Homo sapiens: one gene and its partner. The protein of the gene in region 1 interacts with the protein of each later gene in a biochemical or structural test. Each region holds a gene or a part of one and is shown in the gene's direction. Other genes may lie near its edges. The genes, in order: CCKBR and SLCO1B3.

Evidence for each region.
Region 2: the proteins of CCKBR (region 1) and SLCO1B3 form a complex in vitro, tested with the Homo sapiens proteins (one study listed by BioGRID).

The regions. Positions count from the first base shown.
Region 1 is NC_000011.10:6,260,981-6,272,895, forward strand, and holds the end of CCKBR (gastrin/cholecystokinin type B receptor), read left to right. Parts: intron 1-8,688; coding exon 8,689-8,940; intron 8,941-9,107; coding exon 9,108-9,357; intron 9,358-9,665; coding exon 9,666-9,823; coding exon of another isoform or gene 9,824-10,030; coding exon 10,031-10,563; 3' UTR 10,564-11,147; downstream 11,148-11,915. UniProt on the Homo sapiens protein: Receptor for gastrin and cholecystokinin. The CCK-B receptors occur throughout the central nervous system where they modulate anxiety, analgesia, arousal, and neuroleptic activity.
Region 2 is NC_000012.12:20,810,737-20,822,651, forward strand, and holds part of SLCO1B3 (solute carrier organic anion transporter family member 1B3), read left to right. Parts: 5' UTR 1-28; intron 29-2,787; 5' UTR 2,788-2,902; intron 2,903-4,937; 5' UTR 4,938-5,002; coding exon 5,003-5,086; intron 5,087-11,811; exon of another isoform or gene 11,812-11,915. Other genes in the region: SLCO1B3-SLCO1B7 readthrough transcript protein, read left to right, coding at 5,003-5,086. UniProt on the Homo sapiens protein: Mediates the Na(+)-independent uptake of organic anions.

The DNA.
Region 1 (11,915 bases):
AAGGAGTGGGATTCTAGGTGAAGGAGCAATGTTAAGCAGAAGGAAATTTTTCTAAACTCAAAAAGGGAAAGTTGGAATAAATTGTAATCCAAGTATTTATTTACCCCACGAAATAATCTATGCTTTCTCAGCCGAGTTGTTACACACTCACACTTGGATTCTGTCATTCAGCCAATATTTATTGAACCAGAGATTGTGCTAGGCAGTGGGAATGTAAGTTGAACAAAACCGACACAATTCCTACTTCACAGAGCTCAAAGTTTAATGGGCGAGACAGAAAAGCAGGGGATTGCAGCACAAAGTGGAAGAGCCTTGACAGGGAAAAGATAGTGGGAACACAAGTGGAACACCTCTAGCCCAGCCCAGCCTCCTTGAGAATTAAAGTTGGCCTCTTGAGGAAATGAGCTACAAAGTCAAAAAAATTAGGGAGGCTGGCTCTAAGCTTCCTGTTGGCAAAAAAAAAAAAAAAAAAAAATATATATACACACACACACACACACACACACACACACACACACATATACATATGGGAGAGCCAGCCAAGTGAACGGGCAGAAGAGGCAGAAAGCATCCCAAATAAAAGGACAAGATGTATAAGAAGCTCAAAGTTTGAATTCATGGCACTTTTATCCACTGTGACATAGTTTTGAGTGACTAGAACATATATCTTAAGAAGGGAATAATGAACAGGCTGGAGACCAGCCTAGAGGGTTTGCAGAGAGCCTGCTAGGCCTGACCATGGAACATGGACTTTCTCCCGAGGGCAATAGGAACTACTAAAAGATTCGGTAGTACTACCAGGATTAGTTCTATAATGTGGAGAACGGATTGGAAGACATAAGATGGAAGGCAGGGGGATACTTTACAAGGTTACTATATTACACTGTTCTGGGTGAAAGATGATGCTAGCTGAGACTAAGGTAATGGCAAGGGAGATGGAGAGAGGTGGATAGATTTGAGAGCCTCTTCTGGAAATGGAATCAACAGATTAGAAGCAGAGAGGATGGAAGAGGTCAAGGGATGACATTCAGATTTCTAACTTGGACAACTGAATGGATATTGGTGCTATAGCAATTGTATACAATGAGAAAGATAACAAAACAGCAGAAACAGGTTTGGAAGAGGGAATTATAAATTCAGTTTGGAACCCATTGAGTTTAAATGTTAGTGGGGCATCCAGGTGAGGTTACCTAGTAAGCTGTTGAATCCAGGGGTCTGGAACTTACAGGAGAGGTCTGAGGTGGAAATACAGACTTGAAGAAGGTCTTTGCCTACAGGATGTAGAAGCCCCGAGAATAGTTAAAATCATAAAATTTTGTATAGAATGAGAAGAAAATAGGTCCTAGGTCAAGACTCTGCATAAGACCATTATTTAAAAGCCAGGCAGAGAAAGGAGAATTTATGAAGGAGATTCAGATGAAACCATCAGAAAGGCAGGAGCTACGCCCTTCCAGAAAGCAAGAAAAAGAGAGTTTCAAGCAGGTTGGGGTAAGTGATATCAAATGCTATTGACATAAGTTACATAAATAAAAAACAGGACAGTCAGAACAGCATCCTTCACATTCAATAACAAGAAAATATTTAGGAGTTGTAGGTATTGAGGCTTGACTATGGTAGGTTAAAGATTGGACTGGTGAGAGAAGGAGTTATGAGAAGTGAACCAAGGTATGTAGCCAAAACTTTCAAGAAGTCTGGTAGGCAAAGAAAGAGAGAGAGAGAGAGAGAGAGAGAGAGAGAGAGAGAGAAAGAAAAGCAGGATATTGCCAAAAATAGCATGAGATTGAGGAAGGGGGGAGTGGGTATGTGCATAGGTTTGTTACGTGTGTGCGCGTGTGTGTGCACGCATTTTAAAACAAGAGCTTTTTAAAATGTTTGTTGGTGATTGGGCCGAGAGAGGAAGATTGAAGGTGCAGATAAGAAAGGGGATAGTCAATAGAGAAGATTCCCTGTGAAAGCGGGATGTGACGCAATTCAGAGCACAGGTGCAAAAATTTGCCTCACTTATCTAAATGCTCCTCACACATTTGGATGTTACCCAGCCAGTCAGATGTTACACACAGAGACCCTGTCAGCCACACTCATTCAGATATTATCCCTGCAGATGCATAGGTTACCCAGGTTCACTCCAATGTTACCAATAGGAATTTGGATGTTACCACTTTATTCTCCTTATATAATCCATGCAGACTTGAGTATTACCCATGTTCACTCAGATAGTACCCACAGAAAGACAAATGTTACCACACTCACTTTAATATTGTCCGAAGTCATTTTGGTGTTACCCATCCATCAAACACTACTCACTTTCATTTTATTATTATCCACACACAACCAGATATTACCTATGCTCACTTAAGTAAGCTTTTCCCAGATACTACCCATAAAATTACAAATATTACTCTCACATACTCAGATAATACCCACAAAAGCTTAAATATTACTTACATTCACTCAGGTGCTCAGTTATTTCATTTACTCAGATTAACATCTTTTTTTTTTTTTTTTTTTTGAGGCAGTCTCCCTCTGTTGCCCAGGCTGGGGTGCAGTAGCATGATCATGGCTCATTGCAGTCTTGACCTCCGCAGGCTCAAGTGATCCTCCCACCTCAACCCCCTAAATAGCTGGGACTACAGGCATGTGCCACCACAAGTGGCTAATTTTTTGTATTTTTTGTAGAGATAGGGTTTTTCCATGTTGCCCAGGCTGGTCTCTAAATCCTTGGCTTAAGAGATCTGCCCACCTCAGCCTTCCAAAGTGCTGGGATTACAGATATAAGCCACCATGTCTGGCCCAGATTAACATCTTAATTTAGTTAACATGTTAACATCTAACATCTGTACTCAAATACTACCCATACATACTTGGATATTACTTCTGCTCAGTCAGCAATTTCTATCATTATTTGGATATTCCACTACTCACAAGTAGACCTCTGAATGTAATCTATGCTTCCTGAAGATGTTACCTACAAAATGTTATCTACAGAGAGTTGGATATTAACCCTTGCTCTTTCAAATGTTACTACAGTGACTCAGATATTATCTAAACTTAAATGTAAGCCATATTCAATCGGATATTACCTATAAGCATGTAGATGTTACCATTCTCCAGATATGTCCCACAGAAATAAGCGTGACTTTCACCTACCCATATACTATTTCAAAGATTAAAGTATGCCCAACACTCACTCTGATATTACCTACACACCCTTGCATATTACTTCTGCTCCCTCAGTACCCACTATGTGGATTCCCCCATTCACCCAGCCACTACCCACAGTCAGTTGGATGTGATCCCTGCTTATCATAGAGACAAGGGTATTACTTTGATGTCTGTGTGCATGGGTGAACAGATCAAACCTGCCAGTAGAATGCAGAATTTAAGGCATCAGCAGCTTCAGTGTTCTGTGGAGTTTTTCCTTAGAAAGTCTTGGTTTTCATTTTATGTCACGTTGTCTGGATTTTTGCACTCATACTTCTCTGCCATTATCTAGACAGAACAAATACAGATCTTCTAAACACCAGGAGAAGAACTGAACTGTCCCAATCTTCTGAGTCGCCTGGTCTGATGCCAGTTTTCCTCATCCCCAGGAAGATGATGAGATGATGCTCACGGGTAGACTTATCAAGGCACTTGTGGATGTACCCCAGCAGGTGCTATCTCCCATCCTTCTACCCATGCCTGTTTCCTAGTCACTGAAGCCACTGTCATCACTCATATTCCACCATGCAAACACACATCAATACACACACACACACACACACGCATACAAGTCTAAGTCTGATTTATTTTGTGCATGACTTTTTAAACTAATGGATTATTTTTAGAGCAGTTTTAAGTTTACAAAAATTACAGAGTGCCCATACACACACAACCACACATATACACAGAATTTACCCTATTATTAACAGCTTACATTAGTGTGGTACATGTGTCACAATTTATGAGCCAATATCAATACATTATTCTCTAAATTCTAGAGTTTACATTAGGGTTCACTTTTTGTGTTGTATGGTTCTATAGGTTTTGACAAATGTATAATGGCATGTATCCATCATTACAGTATCACACAGAATAGTTTCACTGCCCTAAAAATCCCCTGTACTTCATCTATTTATCCCTCGCTCTGCCTCTCCAAACTCCTGGCTCTAAAATTGCTTTTAATTAGAATTTTTCACATTTCTGAACTGTTCAACAGCAAAGACGTGTGGAGACAGTGGTGGCTGGAAATAAGATAATAGCTAGGAATGTCCAGTAAAACAGCAGAACACTGCACAGTTGCTGGTCATTTTTACTGGGACTTTGTCTTATAAATTTCAGGAGTCCCCAAGCATATTGCAAACTTTATAAGGGTAATATTTAGCTCCATCTTTATGGTCTATCACAATTAGCCAAGTTCAAGGGCACACACATGGGACATCAGCTGGATGAATGAATGAGAAATTGCTTTTCATGCTTCACAGTACTGTACCAATTTGAGGTGTGGCGAATTGCATCAATAATTAGTTGAAGAAAGACATCCAGGGCAGATGTAAGCAAGATAATGGAACTAGAAAGATTAAAGAGGTGGAGGCTGGGGGTGGGAGGACAATGGATTTGGAGAAGAAACAGTGAGTCCAAGATAAACCACCAGCTCTTTTCTGAGTCCAAGGACCTCTCTGACAGAGGTCTCCCTCCTAAAAGTCCTTTATTCTCCACCATACACACTTACTCCCCTCAAATTTTGTCACCTATAAGCCTTCTGTAATCCTTCCTTACAGAGAGAGGCCCAGCTTCTAAAGGAAATATAGATGGTTTGCATATAAAAAACAAAAGTTATGCATCTGAAATCATAACCTCTCACTGACCCCCACAAGGACCTTCCAACATGTGTCTCCAAAAAGACAGAGGCAAAGAAGAAGAAGAAAGGGCATGCTGGAGCACCTCTGCAGAGATGACGGATGGATGAGGAGGGGGAAAGCAGGTGCACTTCTGTCTTGAAAGACAGAATCATCCAAGATTCATTAACAAGCATGTGTTGACTGCCTCCCCTGTGCTAGGGATGATGAGTGCTAGGGATATACTGGAGAGCGAGATGGACCTTGCCACTGTCCTCAAGAAGCTCCTAGTCTAGTGGGGAAGACAGAGAATTACATACATACTAATACAGTGAAAAATGCCATGGTTGAGTATAGAGAGAGGGAGAAAGAGGCATTTAGATTGAGATTTGATTAAGAAGGAGGCAGTATGGGCCAGGCGTAGTGGCTCAAACCTGTAATCCCAGCACTTTGGGAGGCCAAAGCAGGTGATCACCTGAGGTCGGGAGTTCGAGACCAGCCTTACCAATATGGAGAAACCCATCTCTACTAAAAATACAAAATTAGCCGGGCGTGGTGGTGCATGCCTGTAATTCTAGCTACTCAGGAGGCTGAGGCAGGAGAATCGCTTGAACCCAGGAGGCAAAGGTTGCGGTGAGCCAAGATCATGCCATTGCACTCCAGCCTGGGCAACAAGAGCAAAACTCCATCTCAAAAACAAAAACAAAAACAAACAAACAAACAAAAAACATGGAGGTAGTATGATGAATAACAGAGTACTGCAGGAACAAACAGTAGGAGGCAAAGCACATTAGGGATCAGGGACTTGGCTTCTATTCTGATTCAGCCCCTTATCAGGTGTGTGGTCTTGAGCAAAGAATGTTACTGCTGAGTTCGGTTTGGAAGTTTTTATAAATAGCATTTATTTGATGCCTACAATTTCTAAATAAATTGGTTTTTGTTATGAGAAAATACAGTCATGCATTAACTAATGATGGGGATACCTTCTGAGAAATGCATCATTAGGTGATTTCATTGTGTAAACATCATAGAGTGTTTGTCACACAAACCTAGAAGGTATAGCCTACTACATACCTAGGCTATACGGTATAGCCTACTGCTCCCAGGCTGCAAACCTGTACAGTATATTACTGTGCTGAATATTGTAGGGAAGAGTAACACAATGTTATGTATTTGTGTATCTAAACATAGAAAAGGTACAGTGAAAATACAGCATAAAAGATAAACCATCATACACCTGTATAGGGCACGTACCGTTAATGGAACTTGCAGGAGTAGATGTTGCTCTGGCTAAGTCAGTGATGAGTGGTGAGTGAAAGTAAAGGCCTAGGACATTACTGTACACTACTGTAGACTTTATAAACACTGGATACTTAGGCTACACTAAATGTATTTAATAATAAATTAAACTTAGCATACTGTAACTTTTTACTTTATAAACTTTTTGACTCTTTTGTAATAACACAGTGTAAAACAAAAAACACATTGTATGGCTATACAAAAATATTTTCTTTTTTTATACTCTTATCCTATAAGCATTTTTCTGTTTTTAACTTTAGAAAAAAAAAAAACCTTTCTGTTAAAACCAAGACACAAACACACACATTGGGCTACACAGGGTCAGGATAAATATTGCCATCTTCCACCTCTACATCTTGTCCCACTGGAAGGTCATCAGGGCAACACCACACATGGAGCTGTCATCTCCTATAATAACGGTGCTTTATTCTGGAATACATCTTAAAGGACCTGCCTGAGTCTGTTTTATAGTTAACTTTTTTAAAAAAATAAGTAAGAGTATACTCTAAAATAATGATTGAAAGTATAATGTAGTAAATACATCAACCAGTCACACAGTCATTTATTATCACTATCAAGTATTATGTACATCATTGTATGTGCTAGGCTTTTATATGACTGACAGCACAGTAGGTTTGTTTATACCAGTATCCCCACAAACACATACGTAATGCATTATGCTGCAATGTTACAATAACATTACTAGGTGATAGAAACTTTTCAGCTCCATTATAATCTTTTGTTGTTGTTATTTTGGGTTTTGTTTGAGACAGAGTCTCACTCTGTTGTGCAGGCTGGAGTGCAGTGGCACTATCATAGCTCATTGCAGCCTTGAACTCCTGGGTTCAAGCAATCTTTCTGCCTCAAACTCCTGAGTAGCTATGACTATAGGCACGTATCACCACACCCAGCTAATTTTTTATGTTTTGTAGAGACGGGACTTTGCTATGTTGCTCAGGCTGATCTCAAGCTCCTGGCCTCAGGTGATCCTCCCGCCTTGGCCTCTCAAAGTGCTGGGATTACAAAGATAAGCCACTGCACTCAGCTGTTCATTACAATCTTATGAGACCACCATCGTATATGAAATTGGTCATTTACCAAAACATCGTTATTCAGTGCATGGCTGTAGTTTTCAATTTGGGAGCTAAAATGAGAATCAGTCAAAGTATGGGGCTCTGGAAGAGGGGGCTGCAGCTTTGAGGCTTTCCTTCTCTGCAATCTAGGAGGCTCTGTCCCCTGCCCTCTCTACCTTCCAGCTCTAATCCCTCTCATGCTGAGGCCATAGGTGTGAGTAATTCAGTCCTGTTCAATCCAATTCGATTTTATCTAAATCTGCTTGGCTGTGATGTGGTGGTCCAAAGATTAATCCATCTTTTAATAGACAATGACACAAAAGAATGGGGTCAGCCTCCCAGCCCCTCTGCCTCACACAGGTGTCCCTCCTATGAGCTCCAACAGCACCTTATACATCCTTCAGCCTCACTCCTTATCACATCTGTTTATGTATCTGAGTTTACTTCCCCACTGTGAGCTCTCAAATGGCAGGGATCTTGTCATGTTCATCTCTTTGTCCCCAGTGCCTAGCACAAAGGGAGTCCTCTGTAAATGTTTATAGAGTGAGAATGAATGTTTGGAGAGAATTAAAATACAAGGCAGAAGTAAAATAGGCTGTAATAGTTGTGTAAGAAACAGGCATGGGTCAGAGAAAGAGGAGAGTAGAAGGGCCTTACAGAAGGGCCTTACAGAAGAAGTAGCAGTCAATTTGAGTCTTGACCAACAAGGGATGAATAGGAATTCACCAGATACAGAAAATAAGCTTGTGATGAGGGGTAGAAGTTGTGAGGAGGGTTGGTAAAAGAGTATTCCGGTCTGAGAAACCAGCTTGAGCAGGGAGAGAGTCACAAGTGCAAATGATGCATTCAAGAAATTGAGTCATCCAGTGGCTTGCTTAAATGCCTGCTGTACAGGGAGGGGGTGGGAGAGAAAGAAGTCCCTTCTGGGAGGATCTTGATGATATTCTGAGGGGTTGCAGACAGTAGAGAGTAAGTGAAGTATTTTTTTTTTTTTTTTTTTTGCTTTTGTTTTTAGAGAATAAAGACATGATCTGATGTGATTCAAAAGGTAGTGGGTTGTCAACAGTGTAGAATACTCTAGCGGGGTCAAATAGAGTAGGCTAAGAAAGGACCTTTGAATTTAGCAGTTAAAGATTAGTGTACTTGGGAAGAAGTATGCACTGATAGGGCACAGAATATTGTATTGTAATGGAATGAAGAGTAAATGAGAAGACACAAATATCCTCTTAAGAAGTTTGTCTGCAGAAAGAAGGAAAGATTTGGAACGAACCTTGAGAAGAGACAGGCTTTCTTAAGGAAGGGCAGAGTTGGGCCAATTTAACCAAACCTCAAGGGGTTAGAAGGCTAAAGGATTCAAGTTCACCATTTACTGAGCAGTTCATCGGTGGGGAATGTAGGCATCTGGCTGGGTAGTGAGGGTTGGGGATAAGACGGAAGGAGGGGGATTTGACTGAATGAAGGCTGACCCCCTACTGCCACCTCTCCCTTTTCTTACCCAGAATTGGAGCTGGCCATTAGAATCACTCTTTACGCAGTGATCTTCCTGATGAGCGTTGGAGGAAATATGCTCATCATCGTGGTCCTGGGACTGAGCCGCCGCCTGAGGACTGTCACCAATGCCTTCCTCCTCTCACTGGCAGTCAGCGACCTCCTGCTGGCTGTGGCTTGCATGCCCTTCACCCTCCTGCCCAATCTCATGGGCACATTCATCTTTGGCACCGTCATCTGCAAGGCGGTTTCCTACCTCATGGGTGGGTGAGACAACCACCCCACCCCCACTTGCCACTCTCCCCGCCTAAAGCTCTTGTGGATGTAGGGGTCTTCCCCGGTTGGCAGGGAGGGGTGTGAGGAAGTCCCACTGATGCTTGTGTAGTGCAAGTTTCCTAGGTGACTCCTTCCTTTCTCTTCCCTTGTTTAGGGGTGTCTGTGAGTGTGTCCACGCTAAGCCTCGTGGCCATCGCACTGGAGCGGTACAGCGCCATCTGCCGACCACTGCAGGCACGAGTGTGGCAGACGCGCTCCCACGCGGCTCGCGTGATTGTAGCCACGTGGCTGCTGTCCGGACTACTCATGGTGCCCTACCCCGTGTACACTGTCGTGCAACCAGTGGGGCCTCGTGTGCTGCAGTGCGTGCATCGCTGGCCCAGTGCGCGGGTCCGCCAGACCTGGTGAGCTTGCCCATAAACTATCCTAGGAATTCCTTTCTCACCCCTATTAGATGCTTACGACCATTGCCCAGAATCTTCCTCCAGCTTCCCGGAGAATTACCACGCCAACTCCTATTCTGCATCCACCACCCTGGAGTTCCAGTTTGGGGCCCCTCCCCAGTTCTCTCTCCCTTCCCAGCGGCACCCCCAAATCCTACTCCTACTTCAGGTACCTGGCCACAGCCCTAGAAACACTAGTCCTTGGCTTTTTCTCCATCTGTGATTACAGCTGGACAGAAACCCGAGTGATCTGTCTGTGTTGCCTTCAGGTCCGTACTGCTGCTTCTGCTCTTGTTCTTCATCCCGGGTGTGGTTATGGCCGTGGCCTACGGGCTTATCTCTCGCGAGCTCTACTTAGGGCTTCGCTTTGACGGCGACAGTGACAGCGACAGCCAAAGCAGGGTCCGAAACCAAGGCGGGCTGCCAGGTGGGGCTGGACCACGTGAGCAAAATCTGGGCGAGGCGGAGCTTTGGAGGGCGACGGGGCCTGCTGGAGTGGGTGGGACTGAAATGAAGGTGAGGGTGAGAAGGAAGCTGGAAATGGAGTTGAGCTGGGAGCGGAGGTCAGGTGGGGACTGGGCTGGAGACTGGGGGGACTCGCCTTTTTCTCTGACCGCCCACCCTTTGTGCTCAGGGGCTGTTCACCAGAACGGGCGTTGCCGGCCTGAGACTGGCGCGGTTGGCGAAGACAGCGATGGCTGCTACGTGCAACTTCCACGTTCCCGGCCTGCCCTGGAGCTGACGGCGCTGACGGCTCCTGGGCCGGGATCCGGCTCCCGGCCCACCCAGGCCAAGCTGCTGGCTAAGAAGCGCGTGGTGCGAATGTTGCTGGTGATCGTTGTGCTTTTTTTTCTGTGTTGGTTGCCAGTTTATAGTGCCAACACGTGGCGCGCCTTTGATGGCCCGGGTGCACACCGAGCACTCTCGGGTGCTCCTATCTCCTTCATTCACTTGCTGAGCTACGCCTCGGCCTGTGTCAACCCCCTGGTCTACTGCTTCATGCACCGTCGCTTTCGCCAGGCCTGCCTGGAAACTTGCGCTCGCTGCTGCCCCCGGCCTCCACGAGCTCGCCCCAGGGCTCTTCCCGATGAGGACCCTCCCACTCCCTCCATTGCTTCGCTGTCCAGGCTTAGCTACACCACCATCAGCACACTGGGCCCTGGCTGAGGAGTAGAGGGGCCGTGGGGGTTGAGGCAGGGCAAATGACATGCACTGACCCTTCCAGACATACGAAACACAAACCACAACTGACACAGGAAACCAACACCCAAAGCATGGACTAACCCCAACGCACAGGAAAAGGTAGCTTACCTGACACAAGAGGAATAAGAATGGAGCAGTACATGGGAAAGGAGGCATGCCTCTGATATGGGACTGAGCCTGGCCCATAGAAACATGACACTGACCTTGGAGAGACACAGCGTCCCTAGCAGTGAACTATTTCTACACAGTGGGAACTCTGACAAGGGCTGACCTGCCTCTCACACACATAGATTAATGGCACTGATTGTTTTAGAGACTATGGAGCCTGGCACAGGACTGATTCTGGGATGCTCCTAGTTTGACCTCACAGTGACCCTTCCCAATCAGCACTGAAAATACCATCAGGCCTAATCTCATACCTCTGACCAACAGGCTGTTCTGCACTGAAAAGGTTCTTCATCCCTTTCCAGTTAAGGACCGTGGCCCTGCCCTCTCCTTCCTTACCCAAACTGTTCAAGAAATAATAAATTGTTTGGCTTCCTCCTGAACTTCCTTTCTGGATTCTTCTGGGGCAGGTGAGGAGGCATAGGATTTTGCAGTATCCTTCTGTCGGGTCTCTCCCACTGTTGCACACTGCTGTGCACAACCCCTTGCCAGAAAGCCCAGCCTCTGAGGTTCAGCGTGGCTGTGCATATTCTTTCTGAGTTTTCATCCTCTACCTACATTCCAATGTTGCAATAACTGTGAATGGGGATGGAAAATGGCATATCCATGACATATCATGATTCCTGATCACATTATCCCAAAGTGGTGCCACTGTTAAGGTACTATATTAATGGATGCTTATTAAATTTTGATGAAAAGATAAAAGAGGAAGCACTGTATAATAAGACTAAGTTTATTCAATGTGTGTTTGAAACACCAGAGATCAGACCATGACAGGTATACAGAATGAATACAGTTAATTAAAGAGTAGGGATTTTTTGCTGTACTCTCTTCCCCAGTGTCAAAACCTGGCCAAGATTCTGCCAAATGGAAGCACTTTTAGTAGCTACAACAAAAAAAGACCTGAATAGGAGTCTGAGAACCCAGTCTCCCTTTTACTATAAGAATGATCTAGCCCCAGAGACAGGCAAAGACCAACAATATCACCTCTTTACACACAATGACAAATGAGGAAGAACAGGAACTGAGGACCTCACTAAGAGGACATACGTGGATAATCAGAGGCATAGTATATTGGAGGAGGGGTCTTTTGATGCTTCATCTTGTAACAGACAGGGGAAACTGAGGCCCAGAGCAGGAATGTAAGCTGC
Region 2 (11,915 bases), on another chromosome or scaffold:
TGCAGTTGCTGTAGCATTCAAAGTCAAGGTAAGAACCGTCGAGGTTGTCTAATTAAAACATTTCTTTTATGTAAGAAATTTTAACAAATTTCAGTGAAAATGTTTTTGGTAGTTATGATAAATATTACAGATTTTATGCTCTGTGTCTTCTCCACACTTTTGTTCTGAGCCCTTAAAGCCTTGTAAATATCCCTTCTAGAAATAGAAGAGCCTCAGATTTATATACTCAAAAATAAGAGTAAATCATACCTTTATAAAGTGAAAAATAAAGTTTGGAGTCCTATTTCTATTGCTTTCTAAACAAATGAAACATGAAGTCTGAAAGGATGGACTTCTAGTTACTCTCTTAAAATATACTATAAGATAATTATTTGTATAAACTGTATTGAATTACTATACCAGGCTCCCTATTTCTTTGATTTCACTTTAACTGGATAAGTAGGAGTGGGCGGGTGGAGGGGTGGAAAATATGTTTCAAAGTCACTTAATCACCTCACTTTCCTCCATTCAACTCGTTTGATTTAGGGTGAGGGGAAAGAGATTTTCTAGATAACTTTTTTATCTCTGTTCAAATAAGAGAAAAAAATCTTCTGGGCACAGCTCTTGGAAAGAATTAACAGCTCAATAAATAATGGTCCCCTTCACCCATTCAGGAAGGTGGCTTCCCTGATAAGACAGTTATTTTTATTGTGAAAGTAAGGTGGGGATGCAGAAATTCTCTCCTCTGAACAATCTAAGAAGTTAGGAAATGCTGTTTTCCCTTTTATCCTCCTCAGTTCCATAGGTACATGCTAGAAACTGGGTCACTTGGCCTGCACTGGTTTTCTATAACCCCTTAAATATGAAAAGCTAAACAGAAATAAGCAGAGGCTGGTAAGATTCTGCCCTCTACTTCAGCCCAATCAAACTGTGAAGAACTGACCTGTTCTGTTCAGGGAAGAGTTGCAATGCTGCATACAAATGCCTGTGGCTCTGTCTATAAACATATTGTGTCCTCAACATTTATTTATGTCAATAATTTGGAACTCAGAAATAATATGTTCAGAGCAAAATATATTAAACGCTTCTAAATAAGGCTTAAAATGCCACAATGAAGTAAAAAGTGTGGTATTTATTCAAGGCTAAATTGATATTCAAGTTTTGTAGGTACTTTGTACTTACTTGATACATTTTTTTTTTTTTTTTTTTGAGAAGGAGTTTCGCTCTTGTTGCCCAGGCTGGAGTGCAATGGCGTGATTTCAGCTCACCACAACCTCAGCCTCCTGGGTTCAAGTGATTCTCCTGCCTGAGCTTCCAGAGTAGCTGAGATTACAGGCATGTACCACCACACCCAGCTAATTTTGTATTTTTGGCAGAAATGGGGTTTCTCTGTGTTGGTCAGGCTGGTCTCGAACTCCCAACCTCAGGTGATCTGCCCGCCTCGGCCTCCCAAAGTGCTGGGATTACAGGCATGAGTCACTGCTCCCGGCCTACTTGATACAATTTAACCTTTCTGAGAGATGAGAAACCAAGTGCCCACATTTCTTATTTTTCTGGATGGGTATTTTATCTGAACATAAAAGAGAGAGGTGTGGAATAGTTGTCTTGGAAAGTACGGGAAATAACAGAAAAAAGTAATGATTATTCGGGTATGTTCTCCAGTGGTACAGAAGGATGAGAGGATGAGAGAGTTTATTTCAACTAGAGGTAAATAGGGAAACATTAAAGTGGTGTGATTTGGAGCCGCATTACAGCCAAGAGATAGGGAAGGACATTCCAGGAATGGAAGACATATACATGAAGGTAGAGAGCTTTTCTGTTGGGACAGTGGTTCCATACATCTGCAAGTGCTTATGGTTGTATTGGGAAATGGGACTAAAAACTTGGATTCATTTAGGCTGTGAAGACCCTCAAATAGGAAGTGTAAGTTTTATTTTTGTTGTAAGAGGGATCTTTGAATGATTCCAAGAATGGACATGATATGCATAGGAAAGAAAGCAAGCTGGAAGACAGGACAAGTAGAAATTAATCAATTGAAAGAAACAAGGCTTGAGTGGTGAGATAATAGTCTTCAAGCCTTCAAGAATATTTGTTTAGTATAAAGAAAAAGAAAACTCTAAAGCTGAAGGAAGACTATCTGCCTTGCAAGTCGTTCAAAAAGATTTGCAATTATAGAATTAATTGGTAAAAAATAAATATTTTCCAACTTTTAAATTATGAAGAAACAGAGATATTCGTGGAAAAAGTGGTGTAAATTTATTAAGGGGCTGCTTATTACCTTGAGACCACCAAATTATTGATTTTTTTCCTCACTTTACCTACAAAACACATACAAAAAGTGGAATAATTGAACTTCTCTTAGAGATACATAGGTATGGGTTTCTCCATTCATGAGTGTATTTATATACACTCGCATATACATAAGTGATAATATCTTCAGATATTGATTTTTCCATATTCATGCATTATCCACTAAATATGCATGATATATATTTATGGTTTTTATGCATTTATAATATAGAGAATCAATAAATCCTTGTTGAGTAAATTAATGCATAAAATATGCAGTAGATCTTCATTATTCACAGATTCTATATTAGAAAATTTGTCTAAACACTAAAATTTGTTTGTGACACCAAAATTAATACTGCTGGGCTTTTGTGATCATTGGCATGCATGAGCAGAGTGGTGAAAAATTTGAGTTGCTCTGTTTCCAGTTGAAGTGGAACAAAGTGAAGCTCTGCCTTCCTCTCTCAGCTCCCATACTATAAACTTCACAGTGCATTTATCGCCACATTGTTTCCATAGTTGTGCTTTGCGATGCTGAGTTTACTGTTTTAAATGGACTTCAAGCATAGCCCTGAAGTGTTGTCCCGTTGTTCCCACCTCCTAGAGGGCCTGACAGAAGAGGTACATATGCTATGTAAGTTTCCCTCAGGCATGAACTACAGTGCTATTGGCCACTAATTCAATGTTAATGAATCAACAGTATATACTAAGGTGTCTTTAAACAAAAACATACATAAAACATTATGTATTAAGTTATGTATTGATCCGTTGATTAAAATATTGTGACCAAAGCCACACAGTCACCTAACACTGTATCTCTTCTAGGAATGATGGATTAATATTTGCAAATTCAGTGTTCCCAGCAACTTTATGGAACATAATTATTGCAAAACGTGAGAATCAATTGTACATATAACCTATATCATACATATTATATAATCAGTATCCTATTACAAATCGGATGCTTATATAGATAACATTGATATTTACATACTTAGATATTTACATATCTAAGGTATCTATATGAGCAGCTACATAGCAAGTATCTACATAGCATGTATCCACATATATATGCTATATACATAACATATACCTATATCTATGTTATGTGTCTGCTTATATACTTTATATACATAAATATGTGTTATGCATATATGTATGAACAAGAATACATCTCTAAACCTTATAAATATTCCACTGTTCTATATAAAAGAGTCAACTGACGTAAAAAGTTGACTCATTTTACTGGTCTTTAAAATAGGGGCTTAATAACTCTGAAACTTATGATTTCTCATATACTTTGACTTCAAAACTTCACTTGTAGGAATTTATCCTACAGATATGACCACACAGAAAATGACATATAACATATTAAGAACATTTTCTAATATGAAATAATTAGATATAAGCTAAATAGTTAACGATATAGAACTAGTTACATATATTATGAACAACAGAATACCCTGCTACCATAAGCAAAATGAGGACTTTTATTAATATAAAGTATATACAGAAGATAAAAAGGTAGAGTGCAGTAATACTGGTATGCTTACATTTATATTAAAAGAGAAAATATTATGTATTTAATTAAAAATGCATATTAAGGCTGGGCGCGGTGGTTCACGCCTGTAATCCCAGCACTTTGGGAGGCCGAGGCGGGCGGATCAGGAGGTCAGGAGATCGAGACCATGCTGGCTAACACGGTGAAACCCTGTCTCTACTAAAAATACAAAACAATTAGCCGGGCGTTGTGGCACGCACCTGCGCCTGTGGTCCCAGCTACTCAGGAGGCTGAGGCAGGAGAATGGCGTGAACCTGGGAGGCAGAGCTTACAGTGAGCCGAGATCACGCTACTGCCCTCCAGCCCGGGAGACAGAGCAAGACTCCGTCTCAAAAAAAAAAAATAAAAAAGCATACCAGATTTCTGGATAAGGGGACAAAGGTTATAAGCAGAATCTTGCCTTTTCTTTTCTTTTCTTTTTTTTTTTTTTTGCATTTTTCAACTACATGCATGTATTTTCTCTTGAAAAATAAGTGGATAAACCCTAAATACAGTAAGATCATGATGATGGTAAGGTCAAGCATGGCCAGAGTCTCTCTGAGAGATACTTGGAATATATTTTGCTCTTTTAAACAAATCCAAACTTTATCTGCTTTTTGAGCCTTGTTCCATAGGCATCTCCTCTATGAAACTGACTGAGGCTATCCTAATCATTATTATTTACATTATTTTTCAACCCATTTTGAGTATCCACTATGTGCAAGTCATCATTTGGCACTTTATAAACTTATAAGGATAACGTAAACATAAATTTCCTTTCATAAATCTTGTAATCTGGATATGTAGAAAATATAAAAATTTTAATTTCTATAATTTAAAATTGTTGTTCATACAATCTAGTGTGTGGTTTTATATTATTTACTTGTTTCAAATTTCTCTCTATGAAAATTATTTTTCTAAGCAAATTATAATCTCTTTAGGCTAGGAGTTTGTCTCTGTCTTTCCTCCTCTGTGTCCAGCATTGACCTAGTCCTGTGGTCAGGAAATAGCAGGCCCTGAATGAATATTAGAGAATGATTGATTGATTGATATTGAGCTTGTGGCTTTTCCTATTTTTAAATTGTATATTGTTAAAGTAAAATAAATTATACTTTTTCTTTTTTAACAGGTGATCATTTCAAACCAAGCATCAGCAACAATTAAAAATATTCACTTGGTATCTGTAGTTTAATAATGGACCAACATCAACATTTGAATAAAACAGCAGAGTCAGCATCTTCAGAGAAAAAGAAAACAAGACGCTGCAATGGATTCAAGGTAGAATGGGTTTTATATTTTCAAACTAAAATAAGTTAATGGAAAATTTTTATGTATAGAAAGGCCACTAACTGTCAAAAAGAACATTATATCTCATATTACAATTTTTCCATTGAAGCGTACATTAAAATATTAACAAAATAATCCCTATATTGATTTAAATCAGTTTTTAATCTGATTGAAGTTATTTCTTTGCTAGAATTTTTTGATGAATAAAGGTTTATTTATTTTTAACTTTTTAATTTTTAATTTTTGTGGGTATGTAGTAGGTATGTATGTTTATGGGGTACATGAGATGATTTGGTACAGGCATGCAATGTGAAATAAGCAAATAATGAACAATGCGGCATCCATTTCCTCAAGCATTTTTTCATTGAGTTGCACACCATCCAATTATACTTTATTTTAAAAGGTACAGTTAAGTAATTGACTATAGTCACCCTGTGGGCTATCAAATAGTAGGTCTTATTCATTCTTTTTAACTATTTTTTGTACCCATAAATCATCCCCATCTTCCTACCCCCACACCCCCATGACCCTTTCCAGCCTCTGGTAACCATCCTTCTACTCACTGTGTCCATGAATTCAATTGTTTTGATGTTTAGATCCCACAAATAACTGAGAACATGCAATGTTTGTCTTTCTGTGCCTGGATTATTTCAGTTAACATAATGATCTCCAGTTCATTTTGTTGCAAATGACTAGATTTCATTCTTTCTATAGCTGAATAGTACTCCATTGTGTATATGTCCCACTTTTTTTTACGCATTCATCTGCTGATGCACACTTACATTGCTTCCATATCTTAGTTATTGTAAACAGTGCTGCAACAAACATGGAAGTACAGATAATCTTAGATATACGAATTCGCTTTCTTTTGGGTATATACCCAGCAGTGGGATTGCTGGATCACGTGGTAGCTCAATTTTTAGTTCCTTGAGGAACCTCCAGACTGTTCTTCATAGTGGTCCTACTAATTTTTATTGCTACCAACAGTGTACAAGGAATTCCTTTTACTCCACAACCTCACCAGCATTTGTTATTGCCTGTCTTTGGGATATAAGCCATTTTAACTGGGGGTGAGATAGCATCTCATTGTAGTATTGATTTGCATTTCTCTGATGATCACTGATGTTGAGCACTTCTTCCTATGCCTGTGTGCTATTTGTATGTCTTCTTTTGAGAAATGTATATTCAAATATTTTGCCTACCTTTTGATCGGATTATTAGATTTGGTCCTATAGAATTGTTTGATCTACTTAGACATTCTGGTGATTAATTCCTTGACAGATGGGTAGTTTACAAATATTTTCTCCTACTCTGTGGGTTGTCTCTTCACTTTGTTGATTGTATCCTTTTCTATGCAGAAACATTTTAACTAGATGTGATCCTGTTTGTCAATTTTTCTTTGGTTGCCTGTGTTTCTGGGGTAAGAAATTTGCTCAAGAAATTTTTGCCCAGATGAACGTCCTGGAGAGTTTCCCCAATATTTTATTGAGGTAGTTTTATGGGTTGAGGTCTTTAGATTTAAGTCTTTAGTTCATTTTGATTTGTTTTTGTATATGGCTAGAAATAGGGGTCTAGTTTCATCCTAGCACCATTTATTGAAGTGACTGTCTTTTCCCCATTGAATGTTCCTGGCACCTTTGTCAAGAATAAGCTCACTGTAGGTGTGTGGATTTGTTTCTGGGTTCTCTATTCTGATTCATTGGTCTATGTGTCTGTTTATATGCCAGTACCATGCTGTTTTGGTTACTATAACTCTATAGTATAATTTTTTTTTGAGATGGAGTCTCGCTCTGTCACCCAGGCTGGAGTGCAGTGGCATGATCTCGGCTCACTGCAAGCTCCACCTGCTGGGTTCATGCCATTATCCTGCCTCAGCCTCCTGAGTAGCTGGGACTACAGGCACCCGCCACCACACCCAGCTAATTTTTTTTTTTATTTGTAGTAGAGATGAGGTTTCACCATGTTAGCCAGGATGGTCTCGATCTCCTGACCTCGTGATCCGCCTGCCTCGGCCTCCGAAAGTGCTGGGATTACAGCTTGAGCCACCGTGCCTGGCCACTCTGTAGTCACTCTTCTAGAGTGGCAGTTTGGGGATAGCACCAGGAGATATCAGCTGTGATGGCTTGGAGAAACGGTGTAAACCAGCAGTGTAAACAAGAGCAGGGCATGTATGAGTAGTTGAGAACGGTGAATAGGAGTATGACTAGACAGAAGATAGTAGGGATGAAAAGTTTTTTTGGGGCACAGTCTAAGTTGGTCTGGTGTCTGGAATGAGACTGGGGCCTAATAAAAAGGAGCGTCTATACAGGAGCTTAAATGGGCTGTACCTTGTAGCATTCTGAGGACAGGTCTGACTTCTGAGAAGGGAAAGTGGTAAAAGTAGTGTCCAGTCCTTTTTAAGTTGGTGGCTGAGCTTGGTGAGGTGTGTTTTTAATAGACTATTAGTTTGTCACTGGATACTAAGAGCCTAAAAAAATGCTTGACTGATTTGACTAATAAGGGCTGGTCTTTTATCAGACTGTATAGAGGTGGGAAGGCTAAACTGAGGAATTATGTCTGACAGAAGGGAAGAAATGACTGCAGTGGCCTTCTCAGACCCTATAGGAAAGGCCTCTACCTATCTAGTGAAAGTGTCTACTTAGACAAAGAGGTATTTTAGTTTTTGGGACTCGGGGTATGTTGAGTAAAGCTAATTTGCCAGTCCTGGGTGGGGGCAAATCCTCGAGCTTGTTGTGTAGGGAAGGGGCCTGAATAATCCTTGAGGAGTAGCAGATGGAATAGCAGATGGAACACTAAGAAGTTATTTCCTTGAGGATAGATTTCTACGATGGAAAGGAAATGAAAGGTTCTAAGAGGCGGGCTAGTGGCTTGTACTATAGCATAGCCTGCCTTTGCTGGTGTGTGGTGATTAGGCCTGGTGGAACTGCCATCAATAAATCAAGCGTGATCAGGGTGAGAAACAGGGACGAAGGAAATGTGGGGAAATGGGATGAACATCAGGTGGATCAGAGAGATGCAGTCATGAGGGTCAGGTGTGGTGTCTGGAATAATGTGGGAGGCTGGATTGAAGTCCGGGCCAGGAACAATGGTAATTGTGGGACTTAACAAAGAGTGAGTACAGCTGAAGGAGCCAGGGAGCAGAAAGTATATGCGTCAGGTATGAGGAAGAAAATAGATTTTGGAAGTTATGAGAAATGTAGAGAGTGAGTTGAGCATAGTTTGTGATTTTGAGGGCCTCTAAAAGTACTAAAGCAGCGGCAGCCGCTGCACGCGGACATGAGGGCTAGGCTAAAACAGTAAGGTCAAGTTGTTTGGACAGAAAGGCTACAGGGTGCGGTCCTGGCTCTTGTGTAAGAATTCTGACCACATTAACCATGCCTAGGAAGGAAAGGAGTTGTTGTTTTGTAAGGGATTGAGGTTTGGGAGATTAATCGGACACGATCATCAGGGAGAGCATGTGTGTTTTTACGAGAATTATGCCGAGATAGGTAACAGATGAGGATGAAATTTGCGCTTGACTGAAGTAATGGGGTCTGTCTGTGAAGCCTTGTGGCAGTGCAGCCCAGGTAATTTGCTGAGCCTGATGGGTGTCAGGGTCAGTCCAAGTGAAAGCGAAGAGAGGCTTGGATGACTGGTGCAAAAGAATAGTAAAGAAAGCATGTTTGAGATCCAGAACAGAATAATGGATTGTGGAGGGAGGTATTGAGGATAGTAGAGTATATGGGTTTGGTACCATGAGGTGGATAGGCAAAATAATTTGGTTGATAAGGCATAGATCCTGAGCTAACTTGTAAGGCTTGTCTGGTTTTAGGACAGGTAAAATGGGGGAATTGTAAGGAGAGTTTATAGGCTTTAAAAGGCCATGCTGTAGCAGGCGAGTGATAACAGGCTTTAATCCTTTCAAAGCATGCTGTAATGGGATATTGGCACTGAGCGGGGTAAGGGTGATTAGGTTTTAATGAGATGATAAGGGGTGCATGATCGGTCACCAAGGAGGGAGTAGAGGTATCTTATACTTGTGGGTTAAGGTGGGGGAATACAAGAAGAGGATGCAAAGGAGGCTTTGGATTGGGAAGAAGGGCAGCAATGAGATGCGGCTGTAGTCCAGGAATAGTCAGGGAAGCAGATAATTTGGTTAAAATATCTCGGCCTAATAAGGGAACTGGGCAGGTGGGGATAACTAAAAAAGAGTGCATAAAAGAGTATTGTCTAAGTTGGCACCAGAGTTGGGGAGTTTTAAGAGGTTTAGAAGCCTGGCTGTCAATACCCACAACAGTTATGGAGGCAAGGGAAACAGGCCCTTGAAAAGAAGGTAATGTGGAGTGGGTAGCCTCCATATTGATTAAGAAGGGGACGGACTTACCCTCCACTGTGAGAGTTACCTAAAGCTCGGCGTCCGTGATGGTCTATGGGGCTTCTGAGGTGATCAGGCAGCATCAGTCTTCAGCCGCTACGCCAAGAAGGAGTCAGTCAGAGAGCCTTGGGCCAGAGTTCCAGGGGCTCTGGGAGTGGCTGCCAGGTGAGTTGAACAGTCCGATTTCCACTGGGGTCCCACACAGATGGGACACGGCTTAGGAGGAATCCTGGGCTGCGGGCATTACTTGGCCTGGTGGTCAGATTTCTGGCACTTGTAGCAAGCTCCTGGGGGAGGAGGTTCTGGAGGAATGCCTGGCCACTGAGGTTCAGGCGTTTGGAAGTTCTTGTGTGCTGGAGATGTGGCTGGGGTTTGTCTCACAGTGGAGGCAAGGAATTGCAACTTTGTTTTATTACTGTACACCTTGAAAGTGAGGTTAATTAAGTCCTGTTATGGGGTTTGAGGGCCAGATTCCAATTTTTGGAGTTTTATTTAATGTCAGGAGCAGATTGGGTAATAAAATGTATATTGAGAATAAGATGGCCTTTTGACCTTTTAGGGTCTAGGGCTGTAAAGCATCTCAGGGTTGCTGCCGAATGAGCCATGAACTGGGCTGGGTTTTTATATTTGATGAAAAAGAGCCTAAACGCTTCTGATTTGGGATAAAGAAAAAGGAGCATTAACCTTGACTATGCCTTTGGCTCCAGCCACCTTTTTAAGAGTAAATTGCTGGGCAGGTGGGGGAGGGGTAGTCATGGAACAAAACTGTAAGCCGGATCAGGTGTGAGGAGGGGAGGCGATAAAAAGTTTATAGGGTGGAGGAGCAGAGGCTGAGGAAGAATTGGGAACTAGCTCGGCCTGGCGAGGAGGGGAGAGGTCAGATGGGTCTGTAGAAAAGGAAGATTAGAAAGACTCAGCGACGCTTGGGGTTGGGCCTGAGGGGACAGGCGGGAGGGAAAGAAGGAAGATTTGGGATGAATTGCATTGGGCAGAGACTAGGAAGGGACTGATGTGTAAAAGAATGCCTGGACATCAGGCACCTCAGACCATTTGCCCGTTTTACGACAAGAATTATTTAGGTCTTGTAGGATGGAAAAATTGAAAGTGCCGTTTTTCTGGCAATTTGTAACTACTGTCGAGTTTGTACTGGGGTCAAGCGGCATTGCAGAAGAAAAAAGACGCTTAGATTTTAGGTCAGGTGAGAGTTGAAGAGGTTTTAAGTTCTTAAGAATACAGGCTAAGGGAGAAGAAGGAGGAATGGAAGGTGGAAGCTAGTCCATAGTGAAGGAGGCAAGCCCAGAGAAAAGAGTAGAGACACGGAGAAGTGATGGGGGTTTCTTGCCCTCCAGAAAAGCAGAGAAAGGGTTGGGGCACGGAAATAAGGGATTGGGGGTTCTTGCCCCCTAGAAAAGCGGGACTTGCCACTAAGGGTGAAGGAGAAGGGGTTGAGGGGTACTTGCCCCTCCCCCAGAAAAGCAGAGAAGGGGTAGAGACATGGAGAGAAGGGGTTGGGGTACTTGCCCCTCCCCCAGAAAAGCGGGACTTGCGGCTAAGGGTGAAGGACCAAGGCAGGCATCCCTGCGTGGTCTGACACCTTTGAAATGTGGGTGAATAATCAGAGAGGCATCCCTGCAATGATTAAACACCAAGGGAAGGCTGCCTTCCCAGTCCGTGACCGGCACCGGAGTTTTGGGTCCACGGATAAAACATGTCTCCTTTGTCTCTATCCGAAAATGAAAGGAATTGAAATTAAGAGAAGGGAGAGATTGAAGTGTGGTGTCAAGATTGAAAGGAGAAAGAGGTTGAGGGATAGTGAAGGAAGTTGGAGAAGAGAGTAAAAAGAGGCCGCTTACCGGATTTGAAATTGGTGAGATGTTTCTTGGGCTGGTCGGTCTGAGGACCTGAGGTCGTAGATGGATCTTTCTCACGGAGCAAAGAGCAGGAGGACGGGGGATTGATCTCCCAAGGGAGGTCCCCCGATCCAAGTCACGGCACCAAATTTCATGTGTGTCCATGTGAAGAGACCACCAAACAGGCTTTGTGTGAGCAATAAAGCTGTTTATTTCACCTGGATGCGGTTGGGCTGAGTCCGAAAAGAGAGTCAGTGAAGGGAGATAAGGGTGGGGCCGTTTTATAGGATTTGGGAAGGTAAAGGAAAATTACAGTCAAAGGGGGTTGTTCTCTGGTGGGCAGGGGCGGGGGTCACAAGGTGCTCGGTGGGGGAGCTTCTGAGCCAGGAGAAGGAAATTCAAAGGGTTAGTCACTCAGTTAAGGTGGGGCAGGAACAAATCACAATGGTGGAATGTCATCAGTTAAGGCGGGGCAGGGCCTTTCACTTCTTTTGTGATTCTTCAGTTACTTCAGGCCATCTCGGCGTATACGTGCAAGTCACAGGGGATGGGATGGCTTGGCTTGGGCTCAGAGACCTGACAGTGGCAATGTATGGCCACGTTACTGAATCTACAT